4 separate regions of the Homo sapiens genome follow, and regions 1, 2 and 4 are each linked to region 3. The links come from fine-mapping of genetic effects on gene expression. A gene starts in region 3. Each other region holds a variant in brackets. All regions are shown on one strand. Distances are from middle to middle. Region 1 overlaps DRAM1 (DNA damage regulated autophagy modulator 1). Region 2 has its middle 22 kb from the start of DRAM1. Region 3 holds the start of DRAM1 (DNA damage regulated autophagy modulator 1). Region 4 has its middle 32 kb from the start of DRAM1-AS1.

What was found. PIP is the estimated chance that this variant, and not a neighbour inherited with it, causes the effect. A credible set is the group of variants that fine-mapping cannot tell apart.
Region 1: its variant is the best candidate, but not a certain one, in a credible set for the expression of DRAM1 in whole blood (INTERVAL, PIP 0.87).
Region 2: its variant is the best candidate, but not a certain one, in a credible set for the expression of DRAM1 in lymphoblastoid cells (TwinsUK, PIP 0.61).
Region 4: its variant is the best candidate, but not a certain one, in a credible set for the expression of DRAM1 in skeletal muscle (GTEx, PIP 0.67).

What each region holds. Positions count from the first base shown.
Region 1 is chr12:101,919,144-101,924,143 of GRCh38, forward strand. DRAM1 (DNA damage regulated autophagy modulator 1) reads left to right here. Exons shown (of 7, transcript NM_018370.3): 6 at 966-1,058; 7 at 2,073-4,469. The coding sequence ends at 2,117. Among named protein-coding and RNA genes, the nearest start is that of DRAM1-AS1, 43 kb to the right of the region's middle. RefSeq lists an enhancer at 4,201-5,000. The variant A/G (reference allele first, on the strand shown) is at 3,097.
Region 2 is chr12:101,852,649-101,858,020 of GRCh38, forward strand. No RefSeq gene overlaps it. Among named protein-coding and RNA genes, the nearest start is that of DRAM1, 22 kb to the right of the region's middle. RefSeq lists an enhancer at 2,135-2,634 and cis regulatory regions at 2,144-2,361, 2,614-3,290. The variant C/G (reference allele first, on the strand shown) is at 3,012.
Region 3 is chr12:101,875,154-101,880,525 of GRCh38, forward strand. DRAM1 (DNA damage regulated autophagy modulator 1) reads left to right here and starts at 2,427. Exons shown (of 7, transcript NM_018370.3): 1 at 2,427-2,767. The coding sequence starts at 2,637. RefSeq lists enhancers at 1,831-2,613, 2,404-2,453, 2,614-3,395, 3,034-3,123, 3,264-3,313 and silencers at 2,064-2,223, 2,474-2,813.
Region 4 is chr12:101,930,014-101,935,166 of GRCh38, forward strand. No RefSeq gene overlaps it. Among named protein-coding and RNA genes, the nearest start is that of DRAM1-AS1, 32 kb to the right of the region's middle. RefSeq lists a silencer at 379-428 and enhancers at 639-718, 1,538-1,657, 2,018-2,127. The variant T/TA (reference allele first, on the strand shown) is at 2,587.

The sequences.
Region 1 (5,000 bases), 44 kb after region 3:
GATCCTCCTGCCTCAGCCTTCCAAAGTGCTGAGATTACAGGTGTGAGCCATTGCAACAGAGTTTTAAAATTAGTTTCCAGCACTGAAAAATCAGGAGATATCACACACAGACACATCCACAGACACACAGACACACACACGCACACACACACACACACACACGGTTTTGTTTTTTTAAACCCCTTTGAAAGCAACACTAGTGTATTATTTTCCCATGGAATTGAGCTGATGAGGCGTGGGCTCCCTAACTTCCCTCTCTTTTCACAACCATCAGTTTTATTTATTATTGTTAATTTTCTGGCCTCCATAGGCAACTGAGTTTGGAACATCTGATTGAAGCCATTCTCCTTGGCTTCCATTCTCCCATTCTTGCCTCCAAGAAGATATACAGTTAACATGTGGATGTCCATTATTAGCATTTTCTTTGTAGCTGTATTTACCTTGGGATGTTAAGCAGAACTATTTCCTGAATGATCATTTCTATATAAACAGGGAAACACGAAACCTAGGGGACTAGTTGGCCAAGTTCATCTAGATGTGTACACACTTTCTTTGGAACAACTGCGAGAGTGCTTGTTAAGCATAGCCTTACACTTAGGGATTCTCAGCAGAGCGAGACCAAGTCATGCCTTGTATGGAAATTTCTTTCTTCTGTTGAGTCCAAATTTGCTTCCCAGTCTCAGCCATTTTGCAGTCCTTAGTCTACCTTTTGAAGTGACAAACTAAATCTTAAAACAAGAGTTTGTGCGAGCCAGAAAGAACTTTGGAATACCTGCCTTCGCATTCTCAGTGGGCAGGTGCCCTGACACTTAGTAACGTGGTTGTGCTTACCGTATATCCTCAAAGTTCTGACTTATGCTCACTGGACAGCTTTTTCCTTTGGTTGAAACTCCTCATTGTATTTCAGTATGTACATTAAAGTGAGTCTTTTTCGGCTAAATTCTGTTTCTTTATTATTGCATTAGGATTATGTATATCACGTAGTGAGTGCGATCTGTGAATGGACAGTGGCCTTTGGTTTTATTTTCTACTTCCTAACTTTCATCCAAGATTTCCAGGTAGGTGTTTATCAATTCAAATGTTTTAAATTGCGGACAATTAGGATTAGTAAAAATTTGCAGAAGACATTTTGCATTTTTAAAAAGAGCACTTTCTTTTTTTTTTTTTTTTTTTGAGACGGAGTCTCGCTCTGTCGCCCAGGCCGGACTGCGGACTGCAGTGGCGCAATCTCGGCTCACTGCAAAAAGAGCACTTTCTTTTTATCCTTAATGTGTTTGAGAAAAATCTGTAAGGATTGTGCAACTTCATGTGTTAGCTTATTCCCAATGGGAGGCATCTTTAATAGCTCTCCCACCAATGAGATTTTCATATGTCCTCTGCTGTTTGATGTTAATAGTCATGTATCCTGGTTGTTTTCTTTTAGGAGGTCTCACTTACTAGTTCCAAATAATACAAAGTAAATATATCTTTTTTAAAAATAAAAGTATGCCAGGTGTGGTGGTTCACATCTGTAATCCCAGCACTTTGGGAGGCCGAGGCGGGCAGATCACCTGAGGTCAGGAGTTCGAGACCAGCCTGACCAACATGGAGAAACCCCGTCTCTACTAAAAATACAAAATTAGCTGGGGGTGGTGGCACATGCCTGTATTCCCAGCTACTCAGGAGGCTGAGGCAGGAGAATCACTTGAACCCGGGAGGCGGAGGTTGTCGTGAGCTGAGATCATGCCATTGCACTCCAGCTTGGGCAACAAGAGCGAGACTCTATCTCAAAATAAATAAATAAATGAATAAATAAAAAATAAAAGTGTGTTGTTCAAAAAACATTCCCAAAGCAGATAGAAGATGGGACTATATCAGATTTGTCCACAGGAAAAATCTTACATTTTGAAACAAGTGAATTATTAGCTCAAAGGATATAGAAAGCCAAGAAAATTCTTTAGGACCTGACTCAAGCATAGCACAAACCATAGTGAGATCATTCCTTAGGTGGTGCAGAGCTGTTGGAAATGTCATTGTCAACGCTGGGATTGTTTAACTTCTTTTAAACCTTTCTCTTTCATTTTTAAAAATAGAGTGTCACCCTAAGGATATCCACAGAAATCAATGGTGATATTTGAAGAAAGAAGAATTCAGTCTCACTCAGTGAATGTCGCAGGCCATTTCTAAAAGTGCTACAGAGGACAGACAGGGTTTTGAGGCCACCCTGATTATTGGGATGCATCTGCAGCACATCCAGGACTTGAATTTCATTACGAGTTCCTAATAGTTGTATTTCTAAAGATGTGTTTCCTAGAGAATGTACAGCCTTATGACACTGTAGTGATGTTTTTATAATTTTCTAAGTAGATTTTTTTATATTAACAAATTCATATACAGAAAAAATAAGGTGTTACAAAAAATGGAGAGCTCTTATTTTTGTACAGATTCTGTCGTTTTTGTTTTATTTGTGTGAGATTTATGGAAATACACTAAATGAGTAATTCAGGTTCAGTACATTTATTACAAAGTGAAATCAGGGGATATTCATTTGTAAATTTTATTCTTAGTGAATGAACTGTATAATTTTTTTTATCAGGAGAGCACTTATAAAATTCAATTTATAAAGATCATATACCCAAATCATAAAGATTTAGTTGATACATTAACACTAAGATACTCTGATTTTTAGCCGAACTAAACAAAGTGCTTCTACTGAGAGGCCTTTATACCACCATGTACAGTAACTCTAAGTGAATACGGAAGACCTTGGTTTTGAAATTCTGCCACCTTGTTTCTCCCTGCTCATGAGGTCGCACCTTTTGCTCTTGCTGCTAATTGCCCATTCGTAGTGGGTGTAATGCCAGGTGGAATGGTTTCAACAAGTCAGGTGAAAACCATCCTTTATTGTTGCTGGCACAACTTGATATATAGTCTGACTCAGAACTGAAGCTCACATCTCAAATTCATTTCATGCCAGTAAATGTGGCAAAGAGAAGAAAGGCCCAAGAGCGAGACAAGAAGAATGGAGAAGGGGGCAGCCAAGAAGAACTTCTGGGTTCAGGGTACTGTTTATTTGCTCCTTCTCTTCATGCCTGTGGCTGGATGTCCCACAACACT[A/G]TAAGAAATATAAGTCAAGCCCTTTGTGTTAAGCAAGAACTACAGACTCCATCTTTTCACCCAAATCATGAATGACCAATAAAAAGCAAGTTATTCCAGAGGAAGAAGCAGCCCTTGAAATGTTAAGGCTTAGGCTTGAAAGGTGAAGAGCAGGAATTCTCTCTTTCAAATCCTAGAGCATAAACCCATGTGTGGCCAAGTGAGATCAGCCCTCAAGGGCACATGCCAAGGGCAGAGCAGCCCATGTAGACAGCTTCGGAGGGCATGGGGGTGTAGGGAGTTCGGGGTAGCTCCTCATTAACTATTTGTTGGGTGAGTAAAGGGGTGAGGCTCAGTGGCAGGTACCTCTGCAATGACAAGCTGCCTCCCCTCTATGTGTTTAGCATATGTTATTAGAACATGTCCGACACCCCTACCGCTGCCATTTGGGCCCTTTAATAAAGCCAAGTAGAGAAATCTGGCAATAAAAGGCAAATGTAAGCATGCTTTCTTTAAGACGCATCATAAATGGTTTTCTTTAAGTGAATGGAAGAGTTTGACAGAGATACACCTTTGTAAGAAAACATTAAGAATGCTGGCTGGCTGTGGTGGCTCACACCTGTATTCCCAGCACTTTGGGAGGCCTAGGCAGGAGGATTGCTTGAGCCTGGGACTTCGAGACCAGACTGGGAAACATGGCAAAATCCCATCTCTACAACAAAAATACAAAAATTAGCCAAGTGCGGTGGTGTGCCTGTAGTCCTAGTTACTTGGGAGGCTGAGGTGGGAGAATCACCTGAGCCCAGGAGGTGGAGGCTGCAGTGAGCCATGCCAATGCACTCCAGTCTGGGCAACAGAGTGAGACCCTGTCTCAAAAATAAATAAATAAATAAATGAATAAAGAGAATGCTAATCATTTCTGGGTTCACTGCGACTCACTGTAGTGCTGGGGATCCCCCTTGTAACACTGGAACTGAAAGACAGTGATGAAAGCTATGTCAAGCATTCATTATTCTGAAGAGGAGGAGAAATGCCACATACCTTTCCCATGGGACCTGTGGTGGAATGAATCCATACTTCTGCCTCACTTCGAGCAGACTTTTGTTCTCGGCGCTCCTCACGATGGAGTTTCATGCTTCATTTTCACATCTCTCTGCACAATTAGATTGGGAGCTCCTTGAGGGCAGAGTACGTGCCTTAATCTTTATCTTTGTAATGCCACAATGAACAGAGTGCCTCCTGGTACACTGTAGGAGCTTAAGAAATACTCACTGAATGCATGAATGAATGAATGAACAAATGAAGGAATGACTAAGGATGTTTGTAGTGCTATAATATAGAATGGGATTTACTCTGCTTTACCAGTTAGTTTCATAATAAACAAATAGTCTGTATCGCCTGGTAATGTTGACTGTTTTTCTTTGTGTACTGTAAACATTTCAGTTGTTTCGGCATCACCATTCTATGACAACAATCTTCAACCTGGACAGTTACCACAGAAAATTGTTACACGGGCTAGACCAAATGGTACACCTACCTGTCTTGGCAAACTGAGAAGGCCAAAAAAATCACTCCAGACAACCATATTCAGCAGATTCCATGCGACCTCTAAACCCGGTCTTATTCGGATTTTGGTATTATTTCTAATATCCATGAACTTGCATTTCCTTGTACCTTATGGCTGAAATAGTTAAATGAAATGAAATATTTATTTTAAAATTTGTTTTTCTGTTTTTGAGATGGAGTCTCTTTCTGTTGCCCAGGCTGGAGTGCAGTGGCGCGATCTCGGCTCACTGCAACCTCTGCCTCCTGGGTTCAAGGGATTCTCCTGCCTCAGCCTCCCGAGTAGCTGGGACTACAGGCGCCCACCACCACGCCCAGCTAATTTTTTGTATTTTAGTAGAGATGGGGTTTCACTGTGTTAG
Region 2 (5,372 bases), 23 kb before region 3:
TTGAATGCCTCTGGGTATTCCTCTTTCCCCAGTGCACAGCTACCTCAGTAAATGACCACTGGTCTTTTTGATAAAGGACTGAAAATCATTACAGAATATACTCAAGATGATGTTTCAGGGTTCTTTATTCTGGGGACCTGGCCACCTCTTCAGTCCACCAGTACCAGGTCTGAAAACTGACTTAGGTTCAACATCAGGGCAAGAGATCCTGATTTCCTTTTGGGTGACCACCCCGATTTTGTCAAATGCAGTTTATTAACCATTATACACCTATTGCTAAGCCCAGGGACTGACACATAGTAAGTACTCAAAAATATTTGTTGAATGAATGAATGACACTTGGAATTTCAGAGACATAAAAGTTTAGGGTGGTATATAAAACCTCAATCAATCAGTGATGATTGAAGTGTTTATTCTTTCATTAAGTATCCTACTTGACCTACAGGGAAAACATAGAGACCTACAGGGAAACATCAAAAACATAGCCTCTGGAATCAATCAGTGTGACTTGATACCAGGTCTCCTCTTATCATTTCTAAGTCTCAGTTTCCTCATGTGTAAAATGGGTATAATAATAACTTACAAGGCTGCTGTGTGGATCAAATGAGATAATGCACATAAAGATCTCAGCATGGTGCCTGATACATAGCAAGTGTTATAAGGTTAAAATTTTATTTATTCATTTTGTTATTTTATTATTATTAGTTTTTGAGACAGTGTTCCTCTGTCACCCAGGCTGAAGTGCAGTGGCGTGATCTCAGCTCACTGCAACCTCTGCCTCCCAGGTTCAAGTGATTCTCCTGCCTCAGCCTCCTGAGTAGCTGGGATCACAGGCCTGCACCCCTACGCCCAGCTCATTTTTTTTTTTTTTTTTTGTTTAGACAGAGTTTCGCTCTTTGTTGCCCAGGCTGGAGTGCAGTGGTGCGATCTCTGCTCACTGCAACCTCTGTCTCCCGGGTTCAGGCAATTCTCCTCTCTCAGCCTCCCAAGTAGCTGGGATTACAGGCTCCCCACCACCACGCCCAGCTCATTTTTGTATTTTTAGTAGAGGCGGGGTTTCGCCATGCTGGCCAGGCTGGTCTCGAACTCCTGACCTCAGGTGATCCGCCCGCCTTGGCCTCCCAAAGTGCTAGGATTACAGGTAGGAGCCATCACGTCCAGCCAATTTTTTTTGTATTTTTAGTAGAGACAGGTTTTGCCATGTTGGCCCAGCTGGTCTCGAACTCCTGGCCTCAAGTGATCCACCTGCCTCAGCTTCCCAAAATACTGGGATTATAGGTGTGAGCCACCATGCTCAGCATAAGGTTAAAAATTTAAATACCGCAACTCCCATAGGCCACAACTGTTACTCCTTTGTCTCTGTTTATAATTGATCTAAACATTCTCAGTAAACTCCATTTGGTTTGAGGGAGGAGGAAGGCAGAGAAGTAGGATGCCGCAGGAGTTAAACTTGTCAAATAAAGGTCCGTTAGTCTCTGCAAGATGGTTAAGATTATCTCTTGCTGAGTAAATATTAAATAATCTAATATTTAACTCCACATCAGAGCCATTTCATCCTTCTTTCTCTTACTTTTCAAGGTGTCAGGGTTCCATGGGCAAGCCATGTGCACTCTTGGCACATTTACCCATAAATGAGTCTCTCCATAGGCTTTGGAATCCTTGTAGGCTTCAAGGTTTTTGCTCAACTTAGTATTGATACCCTGGTTATGCTCAGCCACTGGGACACTGGGGACATTTGCTGCTAGAGTGTGCAGTATGACTATTGGTCTGTCCTCTTGGTTGGCGTATATTAGTCTGTTCTCGCACTGCTAGTAAAGACATACCTGAGACTGGGTAATTTATAAAGAAAAGAGGTTTAGTTGACTCAGTTCCGCATGGCTGGGAGGCCTCACTATCATGGCGGTAGACGAGTGAGGAGCAAAGGCATGTCTTTCACAGTGGCAGGCAAGAGAGCTTGTGCAGGGAAACTGCCCTTTATAAAACCATCAGATCTTGAGAGACTTATTCACTACCACAGGAATAGTATGGGTGAAAATGCCCTATGATTCAATTATCTCCACCTGTCCCTGCCCTTGACACCTGGGGATTATTACAATTCAAGGTGAGATTTGGGTGAGGACACAGCCAAACCATATCAGTTGTGGTAGGGCCCATTGATCTACAAATGTGACTTGACCTCACTTTTGCATCCCTTCAAGGCTCAGCCACTGCCTCCCTCAGACATGTGGTAGAGGTTATCAGGTCCCTGTCTACCCACTTCCTCATGGTGACCCAATGGCAGGTCACACTCAATTACCTTTCACTTCCCCAAAAAGGATGCTGAAAAGGGGTCTTTTGACTCTCTTCCAAGTCATCAAGGGAGGTCTGCACTGTTGAATTAGGCTAATTAGGCTACCATTACATCACCGTAAGCCTAGGTGCACTCTGCAGTGGTGTTCTCTCCATTTCAAAACAAGAAGTCAGGTTAAATCTGTCTTTACATATATTTTCTCTCTTCAACATAAACTGGGTTTTCACTTTTCTAATCAGCTACTGATGCAGGATTTTTTATTCCTTACCACCACTAGGTCTGGGTTCTCATCTCACAACCAGGAAGAATTAGGCATGCAGACACTTGAAGAGTGAGTGGAGCAGAATTTATTAAGTGAAAGGAAAGCTCTCAGCAAAAAGAGGGGACCTGAAAGCAGTTTACTGGTTGCCCCCTTCACAGTTGAATACCAGGGCTTAAGGCATGAATTTCTGGTGGCTCCACCCTGTCCTTCCAGTGCTGATGCAGGCCCTTGGACTGAGCAGCTCCATATTGATTTATTTCCCTTACTGTGTATGTGTTAAGGAATGGAATTTTCCACTGCAGGCATGTTTAGGCAAGCTCCCCGTGCAAGTTCCCTTATCTGCACAAAACATCTGGTGTAAGCACTTGTAGGGTGGGTGGGAGGTTCTCCGGGGACCCTTCCCTTACTGTCTGCCTAAAGCAAGCTGGCTAACACTTATCACTACAACCCCTTGAGTTT[C/G]AACAGGGAGAAGGAGCTATGTGTAAAGCAAGGGTCTTGGTGTCTAATCTCTTCCTGCACATCTTCTACACCCTGCACCACTAGACCAGAGGAAGGCTTCCCTCTGGGTAGACGTCCCTTTTAGAATTTTTGTTTTTCTTCCTTGACCTAAAGCTAGTTCTTCTCTTTCTTTTCCCTGAGGCAATAAACATCTCCTAGTCCCAAAGTGAGGAATGTTTGCAAGAACGGGAAAAAGTTTATAGAGAAAAAACTATTTGGGGAGGTACAACATTTATATCACCCTTTAACTATCAAATTTGAGTGTCTTCTGCTCCTCTTCTCTTTTTAGATTAATTATACAAAATCAAGAGTACATGTTTTTACATAGCTAAGATATATGATATGGTCTGGCTGTGTCCCCACTCAAATCTCATTTTGAACTAGAGTTCCCATAATCCCCACGTGTCATGGGAGAGACCTAGTAGAAGGTAATTGAATCATGGAGGCAGTTACCCCCATGCTGTTCTCGTGATAGTGAGTGAGTTTCCCCAGATCTGATGGTTTTAAAGAGCGTCCCCCCTACACCACCTTCACTCTGCACTTCCTGCTGCCACCATGTGAAGAAGGACATGTTTACTTCCCCTTCTGCCATGATTATAAGTTTCCTGAGGCCTCCCAAGCCCTGTGGAACTGTGATCCAGTTAAACCTCTTTCCTTTATAAATTACACAGGCTCAGATATGTCCTTACAGCAGCATGAGAACAGGCTAACACATAATATTTAAATTTTGATATTGAAACATTGGAGCTCAATACATATTAATGATGACATAATAACGACAGAATTGAGCAAAAGCACTGAAAACTGCACTTGATAGGAATTGGAATGCATTCTGCCACAAAGACCTGTTTATAAAAAATAAACATAAAAAAGTAATCAGAATACTTAATGCTTCAGATTTTGGTCTGCTGATGAGTAATTTGAGCCAATCTTAAATAAGACTTTTCTTATTTTAATTCTTTTTTTTTTTTCAAAGATGATGTCTTGCTCTGTCACCCAGGCTAGAGTGTAGTAGCGTGATCTCAGCTCACTGCAACCTCCACCTCCCGGGCTCAAGTGATTCTCCTGCCACAGCCTCCTGAAAGCTGGGACTACAGGTGCACAACACCACGCATGGCTAATTTGTGTATTTTTAGTAGAGATGGGGTTTCACCCTGTTGGCCAGGCTGGTCTCGAACTCCTGACCTCAAGTGATACTGCCTCTTCAGTCTCCCAAAGTGCTGGGATTACAGGTGTGAGCCACTGCCCCCGGCCTCTTATTTTAATTCTTTAACCAAAGAAATGTGAGGACAAAGGTCCTGGATGAGACCATAAAACCTGGATTATGATCATTATGAAGGAGACTGCCACTAAATAATATGTGAGTATGCACACATTACCTCTCTGGTTTTACAGTTTCCTCTTGCACAAATCCAAGGCATTAGACTAGATGACCTCTAAGGAACCTTTCTGTAGATCTATAATTTTTTCTGAAATGCTCAGATGGCTCATTGTCCATAAATGTGTCAGCAAGCTGAGTTATTCATTGAGTCACATGTTAACCTCTCACTGGAACTGCAATGCATTACAGTGCTATTATGTAACTCTCCAGCCCCTTAGGATTTGGGGTCATTATAATTAGCCAGAATGGAAAGAACTCCTGAATGATATATCCGGTCTAAGCACAGGCACATGAATTACATGGCTGAGATGGGTAAACCTGAAAATTTTCTGAGAAGTAAACACATTTTTGTTACTATTAATTCCTTCCTCCTCCTCCTGCTCTTGCTTCATCACTTACTTCTGCTATGTCTTCATATTCTCTCTCAGAAAGCATTCTGTTCTAACCCCCAAATGTATCTCTCCATTTTGTCTTCTTGTGCTTCTCCACCTATCTTCTTGGAATAGAAGTCTGAACCTACTGCTTTACTTTTCAGTTCCATGCAATCCAGCTTCTATCTGTACCACTCTCCTGAAATTCCTACAAAGATTGCCAGTGACTGCTTATCTGCCCAAACCGACCTCTTCTTTTCCCCTTTGTGCTGATTCCACTGCAGCATTTGCTCTTTGGTAATCTCATATATACCAACCCCTTTCCACTGATGTTTCCCAAGTCAATTTCCAACTATCTAGCAGTTGTCTTCACCTAGGTGTCCTACAGACATCTCAAACTGTTGGATGTCTAAAACCAAATTCATAATCCTCCAGACTTCTTCTATTCCCTGGCTCAATTAATGATTAATATTCACTGATCCTTTTTTTTTTTTTTTTTGAGACAGTCTCACTCTGTCACCTAGGCTGGAGTGCAGTGTCACCATCTTGGCCCACTGCAACCTCCACCTC
Region 3 (5,372 bases):
TCATGTGCCTGCCTCAACCTCCTAAAGTGCTGGGATTACATTGCACCTGACCATTTTTAAATTTTTATTTGTTTTTGAAATAGAGTCTCGATCTGTGATCCAGGCTGGAGTTCAGTGGTGTGATCATAGCTCACTGCAGCCTCAAACTCCGGGCTCAAGTGAGCCTCCCACGTAAGCCTCTCATGTAGCTGGAACCACAGGTTATGCAACACCACACCCAGCTAATTTTTAAATTTTTTGTAGATATGGTTGCGGGTCTCACTATATTGTCCAGGCTTCGGCCTCCCAAAGCGCCGGGATTACAGAACTGTGAGCTACCATGCCTGGCCAGCTTTTGTGGTTTTTAAAAAGCCTTATTTTAAATTTTCTATTTTGTTTTGTATGGCGGGCACTCACTCCACGGCCACAGTGATCTCTTGAAATACTAGTCTGCCCATGTTCTTACTTTCTCCTTAATACCAAAAATAATCCAAGATTCTCAGCAGGACTCTGGTGACTTTGCCTCTTTGTTTCTCTCTCCATTTGCTGCCTCACACTTATTTAAGTGCTTTCATAGTCCCAGGGAAGCAAGCTCTGTGTATGCATTTCCTCCAGTTGTTTTCTGGGCCTGGAATGCTAATCTTATTTTTCTTTGCCTGGTTAGTAATTACTTCCTTTTGAAAACTCTGATGTCATCTGTCAGAAAACCTCCGTGGTCCTTCCTCTGAGCCCAGGCCCCTGGCCCTCAGCTCTGGGCATGTCTCTACTTTTTAAAATCCTCTCCTTTCCATTTAATAAACCACATAACATAATTTTGTTTTTATTTATTTATATTTTTGAGACAGAGTCTCGTTCTCTCACCCAGGCTGAAATGCAGTGGTGTGATCTCAGCTCACTGAGAAAACCTCCATTTCCCAGGTTCAAGCGATTCTCCTGCCTCAGCCTCCTGAGTAGCTGGGATTACAGGCGTGAGCCATGATGCCTGACTAATTTTTTGTATTTTTAGTAGAGATGGGGTTTCACCATGTTGGCCAGGCTGGTCTCGAACTCCTGACCTCAGGTGATCCACCCACCTTGGCCTCCCAAAGTGCTAGGATTACAGGCATGAGCCACCACGCCTGGCCTAATTTTGTTATTTTGATCTATGAGTGTCCTCGTCCTGAGGGTACTATTACTATTTCATCTTTGTAGCCTAGCATGGCGCCCATGAAATGTGTTTGTGGCTGAAAGGAACCTATCTTTGGTCACCAATGACCCAACAATTTTGGCCACATATGTTGGGCTCAGACTCCCTAAACTATCAAAATCATGTGCTTATATTATAAGTGCCTCCAGAACACAAATCCCTTTCACAGGGCTTGAAATGTATCAAGTCACTATTAATCATCTTAGGCCAAGGCTCCGAGTCTGGGCTACTCCAGAACCTGGAGGGGAGTTTTTTTTGTTTTTTTTTTGTTTGTTTGTTTTTTGAGACAAGGTCTTGCTCTGTCACCCAGGCCGAGTGAAGTGGTGTGATAAAGGCTCACTGCAGCCTCGACCCCCAAGGCTCAAGTGATCATCCCAACTCAGTCTCCCGAGTAACTGGAACCGGCTTTTTTTCTTTTTCATTTTTTTTTTTTTTTTTTGTAGAAGAGGGGTTTCGCTATGTTACCCAGGCTGATCTCTAGTTCTTGGGTTCAAGCGATCCTCCCAACTCGGCCTCCCAAAGTGGTGGCATTCCAGGGGTGATGGCTTTTGGATGCCTCCCAAAGTGATGGCTATTCACGGCGCCCGGCCTGGGAAATCTTATTTCCAGGAAATATTCTCCAGTTGCGCTCTCCTGGAAAGCAGCACAATGGGCCTCCCGGCTCCGTGGGCGCGCAGTCCCACCCGCCTGCCCCGCACCCCACCCGCGTACTCTCCACCCCACCCGTTCCCACCCTGTCTGGGTTTTCGGGTGTTCACCATTGAGGTGGGAGCCACATCTGCGCCCCGTGACCTGGCGAACCTCATTGAACACTTCTGCCCGACCCCCGCAGCAGCAGCGCGACCGGATGGCATGGGTGTCACCACGCGGTGGCCACTCTCACTGCTGCGAAGCGCCGGCGGCGGGACCTCGGAGGGGGCGCCCTCGGGGTGCGAGGCCCGGCACTCCGGAAATCCCCCGGGAGGGAGGGGTTGGGAGAAATAAATCCTTTTCTCCAGAGTTGCGCAAGAGCCAGCGCGGTAGGGCCAGAGTGGGAAGGCCAGAGCGGGCGTCCCCGCCAGTGACCCCACGCCGCCCGTCCGCGCCCAACCCGGCCTCCGCCGAGTGTCCAAACCAAAAGCGAAAGGAACCCGACCCCGCGTCCCCTCCGGCGGCTCCGTAGTCGCGTCCGCTTGGAGCTCGCCGGGCGCCTCCGACCCTGCCGGGCCGCTTTGTGACTTCACTCGTTTCGCAACAAGCCCGGGCAGCCCGCGCCCCACCCACTCTGGCCCGGCAGCCTCGCCGCCCGCAGCCTCGCTCCGCTCCTCGCGCTTCCCCTCCCTCCGGGGCTGGGCCTGCCCCGGCCGTCGCGGAGCCTCCCCTCCCACCGTCCGTGAGTGTACGCGCCCGGCCGCCGCCTCCAGGCAGCCCGGAGCAACCCGGCGCCCGGCCCCGCTGGGCGCAGCACTCCGTCGGCGGCGGCGGCGGCGCGATGCTGTGCTTCCTGAGGGGAATGGCTTTCGTCCCCTTCCTCTTGGTGACCTGGTCGTCAGCCGCCTTCATTATCTCCTACGTGGTCGCCGTGCTCTCCGGGCACGTCAACCCCTTCCTCCCGTATATCAGGTGAGTGGCAGGGTGGGCGTCAGGGCCCCAGGAGCAGGCACAGGGACCACAGGGAGCGCTGCCGACGGGGAGGGAAGGCGTCCGGACCCAGCTTGGGGCGTCGTGTGGTCAGGCAGAGGTGGGAGCAGGAGGAGAGGTGCTCCCGATAGCCTGGGATGTTTAGGGAGGCAGCGGGTGCGGCGCTGAGCACTTCTGCCTGTACCCGGAGCATGGAACAGGGTGGCAGCAAGGAGAGGTTCAGGATAGATGGTAGAGCTTTCATTCTGGGTATGGGACAGAATCTCAGCAGGACGTTCTTAGGCGATATTGAAACAAGATGGGTTCTGATAGATGACATATATTATACAAGAGGTAGATCCAGGTATATGCTAAACAGCCACTATTTTCACTTCTGCATCCCAACATCCCTTGAAGTGGATGTTTGGGCTTATTATTCCCGCAAGCGAGCGGTGGTGTAAAGTTGATGAAATATCATCAACGTGACACTGATGTCACACTAGTTAATGGTAGGAGCAGAATTCACACCCGGCCATGCAGAAAGCAACACTGTGCTGCCCCCAGGTCTCTGGGAGTCTGGCTTAAATTCTCTGGAGCTGCACCAGACACCTCTGGGCACTGTGACCCCAAAGTCCTCAACTTGTCAACAACTTGTGACATCTTTTGTGTTATTTTACCCATTCACTTTTCCTGTGCTTTGGCCTCTACCTTCCTGAGGGGCACTTCAGTGCCAGGGACAGTGGTCTGATCCTCCTATGTGGGTTCCAGCTCAGTGCCTTTCTCATAGTGGCAGGATTCTTTAAACGTTAGAACCATCCATCCTTATCTAAGTAGTGTGACCCCTCTGGACAGGCATTGGTTGGTGAACGGATGATAAGGTTGGTGACACCCAAGGTTTGTTACTGCTATGATAGAAAATGTAGGGCGTCTTCTTCCCTGCAGCCATTCTGTCTGGTGAGCAATGTTCTGTGTTTTTTTGTTTGTTTGTTTGTTTTTTTCCTTTTTTTGGGGGTGGGGGTGAGGAGTGTGGAGAAAGGGGAAACAAAGATCGAGCAAGAGGGGACTAGCATTTTTTAAAATTTTTTTTATTTTTTTGAGACAGAGTCTTGTTCTGTCGCCCAGGCTGGAGTGCAGTGACACAATCTCGGCTCACCGCAACCTCTGCCTCCCGGGTTCAAGCGATTCTCCTGCCTCAGCCTCCCAAGTAGCTGAGATTACAGGCGTGCACCACCACACCTGGCTTAATTTTTTTGTATTTTTAGTAGAGACAGGGTTTCACTATGTTGGTCAGGCTGGTCTCAAATTCCTGACCTCAAGTGATCCTCTTGCCTTGGCCTCCCAAAATGCTAGGATTACAGGTGTGAGCCAGTGTTCCCAGGGAACCAGCATTTACAAGATGCAGGGAATACAGCAATAGGTAGAATAGTGCAAATTTGCAGTAATGATGGTGGTTTTTGCCTATGAAAGGAGATGTTATGTATATCAAGATGTTCTCATCTGGCCTTTCGGTTTTTTCCATTTATTGTTATTATTTTTTATTTTCAGTAGAGACAAAGTCTCACTATATTGCCCAGGCTGGTCTTAAACTCCTGGGCTCAAGCATTCCCCTTGCTTTGGCCTCCCAGAGTGTTGGGATTACAGGCGTGAGCCACCACGCCTGGCCCTCCCATCTGGTATTATGCTTGGAAGAAACCTAGGCTTGGTTTCTCATGGCACATCTCAGGCCCAAGTGCCATCATCTTGCTTCTGAAGCAGGATAGATCCTTCTAGACTTGTGTAAAAGTAAAGACCTGCTCAGCTGGGCACAGTGGCTCACGCCTGTAATCCCAGCACTTTGGGAGGCCGAGGCTGGCGGATCATGAGGTCAAGAGATCGAGACCATCCTGGCCAACATGGTAAAACCTCATCTCTACTAAAAATACAGAAATTAGCTGGGCGTGGTGGTGCACGCCTGTAGTCCCAGCTACTCGGGAGGCTGAGGCAGAATTGCTTGAACCCGGGAGGCAGAGGTTGCAGTGAGCCGAGACAGAGCTACTGCACTCCAGCCTGGTGACAGAGCGAGACTCCATCTCAGAAAAAAAAAAAAAAGGTAAAGAGCTGCTCTACCTGCAGTGCTGCTTCTTTTGTTTGTTTGTTTGTTTGTTTTTTCAGACAAAGTCTCGCTCTGTTGCCCAGTCTGTGGTGTGGTGGTGGGATCACAGCTCACTGCAGCCTCGACCTCCTGGGCTCCATTGATCCTCCCACCTCAGCCTCCTGAATAGCTGGGGACTGTAGATAGGCATGCACAACCATGCCCAGCTAATTTTTAATTTTTTTTTGTATTTGTAGAGATGGCATCTTGCTGTGTCCTGCAATGCTTCCTTTTTTTTTTTTTTTTTTTTTTTTTTTAAGACAGAGTCTTGCTCTGTCGCCCAGGCTGGAGTGCAATGGTGCAATCTCGGCTCAGTGCAACCTCCACCTCCTGGTTCAAGCAATTCTCCTGACTCAGCCTCCCAAGTAGCTGGGATTACAGGCACCTGCCACCACGCCCAGCTAATATTTTTGTATTTTTAGTAGAGACGGGGTTTCACCATGTTGGCCAGGCTGGTCTCAAGCTCCTGACCTCAGA
Region 4 (5,153 bases), 55 kb after region 3:
TGGGTTCTTATGACTCTCAACTCCTGGTATCTTTTGCTTCTGGATGGTGCGGTAAGAGGGACTGGGGGTTGTCGTCCGTCTGTCTGGACTTCCCAAAGGAGAAGTCATGGTGAGGCCCAGGGAAAGGACCATCTAGGCTATCACAGGGCTGGGTAAAAGAAGTCCTCAGTGCTCACTTTTTAAAAAAGTTATTTTAATTTATTACTATTATCATTTTATTATTATGTTTGAACACTCTTGGTGACCATTATTATTACTTTACTGTGGTAAAATATAACATAAATTTTATCATCTTGGTGATTTTTTTTTTTTGAGACAGATCTCACTCTGCCACCCAGACTGGAGTGCAGTGGTGTGATCTTGGCTCACTGCAGCCTCAACCTCTGGGCTCAAGTGATCCTCCCACCTCAGCCTCCCAAGTAGCTGGGACTACAGGTGTGCACCACCGTGCTTGGCTAATTTTTGTATTTTTTGTAGCGATAGGGTCTCACTATGTTGCCTAGGCTGGCCTCAAACTCCTGGACTCAAGAGATCCTTTTGTCTGGGCCTCCCAAAGTGTTAGGATTATAGGCGTGAGCCACCACCACGCACGCCTGGCCGTCGTAGCCATTTTTAAGTGTGCAGTTCAGTGGTTTTGAATACATTCATAATGTTGTGCAACCATCACCACCATCCATCTCCAGAACCCTCTTCATCTTGTAAAACTGAAACTCTGTGCCCATTGAACAATAACTCCTGATTCCCTCTTGCCCCAGCCCCTGGCAACCATTATTCTACTTTCTGGCTCTATGATTTTGACTATTCTAGATACCTCATATAAGTGGAATCATACAGCATTTCTCTTTTTGTGACTGGCTTATTTCATTTAGCGTAATGTCTCAGCACCATCCATGTTGTAGCATGTGTTGGAATTTTTTCCATATTAAGGCTTAGTAAGATTCCATTGTACATTTATACCCACTTTGTTTACCAATCATCTGTTGATGGACACTTCAGTTGCTTCCACATTGTGAATAATGCTGCTACAAACATGTGTGTACAAATATTTCTTTGAGACCCTGCTTTAAATTCTTCTGGGTATATACCAAGAAGTGGGATTGCTGGATCATATGGAAATTCTATTTTTAATTTTTTGAGGAACCACCATACTGTTTTCCATAGCAGCTGTACCATTTTACAGTCCCACCAACAGTGCACAAGGATTCTAATTTCTTCACATCCTCGCCAACATTTGTTTTTTCCTATTTATTTATTTATTTGAGATTTGAGGGTCTTGGTATGTTACCCACGCTGGCCTCCAATTCCTTGGCTCAAGAGATCCTCATGCCTCAGCCTCTAAAGTAGCTGGGATTACAGGCACAAACCATAGCACCTGACATATTTTCCATTTTTTTGGTTAGTAGCCTTCCTAATGGGTGTGAGGTGATATCTCATAGTATTTTGGTTTGCATTTCCCTAAGAATTAATGATGTTGGTCATTTTTTCATGTGCTTATTGGTCACCTATATATCTTCTTTGGAGAAACATCTGTTCAGTTCGTTTTTGAATTGGGTTGTTTTCCTCAGTCCTCAGTCTTGTCACATGTATGGATGTGATATCAGATCAGCAGCATGTAAGTTAGTCTTCTTGGAGCTGAAGCAGCAGCAGGAAGTGGTGAGGACTCTGGCTCCTGGGTTCCAGCTCTCTTGCTCTCCCTTGCTCATCAGGCTAATATCAGCATGAGTGACAGGAAAGCCTGGAAGACTAACTTCACCTTCTTTAACAATCCTTTTACTCAGGGTCAGCCCAGAGTAGCAGGTTCTGGGTGCCACCTAAGACATCTGATTTAAGGTGAAGAGTGATGTATTTAGAATTGGCCAGTGCTTTGACAGCTGCAAACATAACCTTTAACACGCATATTAAAATGAATACTGAGCTTAGTTCAGTCTTTCATTTCCTTTTAATACTTGAAAAGCTACAGTTTTGTTTTAAAGTTCTCTTAAAAGGCTCTAGCAGGTGAATTTATTCTTCTGCTTGATTGCATTTGGACCCTTAAATAACAGCCACCTTGAAACTGAAACCGGGAAAACCCCAGGTCTCTGGCCAGAAGAAGCAAAGGTATGTTCTGAGATTTATTAAATAATTACCTACTTGTTGAAATGTTGTAGGCAGGAGAAAAAAGCTGAGATGTTGGCAAATATGAGTAGAGATTAGGAAGGATCTTGAGTCATGAGGCTTTTAAATGTGGTGGAACATTTTGGTGTTACTGACCTTTGACTCAGGACAGTTGAACCAAGCGATGTGGTCTTCAGACTCAACCTGGCCGTGGCTTGGTATATCTTTATATTGACTGTCTCAATGACCGCAGTCAACTGTGATCCAGTTGTTTGGAGCATTCACAGCAATGACTTGAAGGGAAGAGAATAAGGAGTGAGAAACAAAACTCGGAATTCGTTGGCCTTTGTGACAGCCCGTCTGCAGTTGGTCTGAATAGCACATAGGGAAGGTTTCCTAATGTAGTACATTGCTCTGAAACTAATTTGATTCAGAGCGCCAGGGAGGGAGGATGTTTTCACTTGGTGATACCTTCCATCAGTGTTCCAAACT[T/TA]CAGCCATCTGTGCTTCTTTTGAAATTTCTTGTCATGCTGTGTACCAAAATTTACTTAATACTTTGCAATGGCTCCTTAACTTAAATATTTTTATTTTAAAGAGAAACTTCTCCTACTGCTTTGTCTCCTGGATTGCCTAGGTTGGTCAATGATATTACCATCTGTTGGGTCACCCAGGGCAGAAACATGAGCATTATCCTAGACATCTCACTTTGCTCAAAGCCCACACCCCATGTTCTATTAACATTGTCTCCTGGCCGGGTGTGGTGGCTCACACTTGTAATCCCAGCACTTTTGGAGGCCCACTCCGGTGGATCATTTGAGGTCAGGAGTTCAAGACCAGCCTGGCCAACATAGTGAAACCCTGTCTCTACTAAAAATACAAAAATTAGCCGTCGTGGTGGCACACACCTCTAATCCCAACTACTCGGGAGGCTGAGGCAGGAAAATCACTTGAACCCTGGAGGCGGAGGTTGCATTGAGCGGAGATTGCACCACTGCACTCCAGCCTGGGCGACAGAGTGAGGGAGACTCCGTCTCAAAGAAAAAAAAGAAAAGGCTCCTATGTACAGTATGAATAGATAATTATCATCCAAATTAGGGCATTTTGGGGGGCAAATGGGACACTACTAATAATCATACCCAGGGTAAACTGTCTGAAGCAAATGGGGATGTATGGTCAACCCGTCCATATGGTCTTGAATCCTCTTCCCATTACATTCTCCCTGCTATTACTGCCTTAGTTCAGGCCTTCAAAATTATTTGCTTAGACTAGTGTAGTAGCTTGCTACGGTTTCCTTGACTTCAATCTTGGTCCTTTCCAACGTATCTTACACACTGCACATAAACATTTGATCTATCACCCTTTTCAGACCTTTCAGTATCTGCCTGTAATGTCATGATACATTTCAAATTTCTTAGTGTGGCTTATGAGGTTCCTCACAGATCTGGTTCCTTCTAGCCTTCCAGGCTGTTTGCTCGTTTATCTATTGCTCTATTCACATTTATTGTCACTGTGGGTAGTACAATGTTAGGCTCCAGGAATATAATAATAAGATGAGTTTTTGCCCTCAAGATATTTATAGTGCAGTAGAGAAACAGTCAAGGGGATGCTGTAGCAATATGTACCATGGCAAAGCACCACAACCTATGGCTTCACTATTCAGGGTGTTGTTCAGGGACCAGCAGCATGACTATCACTTGGGAGCTCTGTAGAAATGCAGAATCTAAGTCCTAGGGCAGTAGCTCAAATCTCTAATCTCAGCTTTGGGAGGCTGAGGTGGGAGTATCACTTCAGGCCAAGAAATTGAGGACTGCCTGGGCAACACACCAAGACCCCATCTCTCAAAAAAAAAAAAAAAATTAGCTGGTGCGGTGGCACACATCTGTAGTCCTAGTTACTTGAGAGTTAAGGCAGCAGAATGGATGGCTTGAGCCCAGGAGTTTGAGGCTTCAGTGAGCTATGATTGCACCACTGTGCTCCAGCCTGGGCAACAAAGTGAGACGCTGTGTCTGAAGAAAGAAAGAAATGCAGAATCTTAGTGCCCCGAGCCAGACTCAGTAAATGCGAATCTGCATTTTAACAAGATCCCTAGGTGATTGGAATGAATGTCAGCTTTTGAAGTCCTGGTCTATGGGACCACACTAGTTGAAGCACTTGATTCAGATCCCCAGGAGAGGTCATGCCTGGCAAGAGACTTAGAGAAGAAGATGGAGTTTGCTAAATGAAGGCGAGGAGGGAAGAGGCACATGTCCTGGACAAATTGGCATGTGCTTTGGCACACAGGCAAAAGAGGATGTGCTGTTTGGGGGAAGTTACAAGTTGTTCCATATTTTGGGAACAAATTGCTGATGGTGGCCTCACTTAGCTCAGACATGCCATCAATTCAAGGAAAAAGTTTGATCAAATTTGATACCTCCATCTCATATTTGAGCCAATCCTGAAACATAGTGATTAAGAATGAGTACTTTGATTCATAAAGAAAAAGCAGAATAGAAGTTACTAGGGGCTGGGGACAGGGGGAGATGGGGAATTATTGCTTAATGGACAAGAGTTTCTGTTTGGGATGGTGAAAAATTCCTGGAAATGGATAGTTGTACAACATTGTGAATACCATGAAATTGTAAATACTTTAAAATGATTAAAGTGGTACATTTTATGTTATGTATATTTTATCATAATTTTTTTAAAGAATAAGTACTTTGGAATCAAGACCTAATTTTCAAGACCTACCATTTCCTTTCTGTCACGCCTCAGTCAAGTCAGATAACGTCTTGGTGTCTCAGTACCCTTATCTGTAAAGTGGGAATAATGCTAGCACCTGCCTTGTAGGCTTGTCACGAGGATTCCTTGAAGCAATGCCTGTAAAGCACCTGGGAACTTGTTGGTGATCCTTATGCCTGCCCATTGAAGCTTGAAATGCCCAGCCTTAGCAGTTTGCCTGGCACAGCCAGAGCTGTGCATGGCAGATGCTGTTATAGCCCTTCCACCTCCCTCTCGACTGCATACCCTCAACTGTCTTCTCCCTGTACAGCAGCAGTTTTCAACTCTGGCTGCACATGAGAA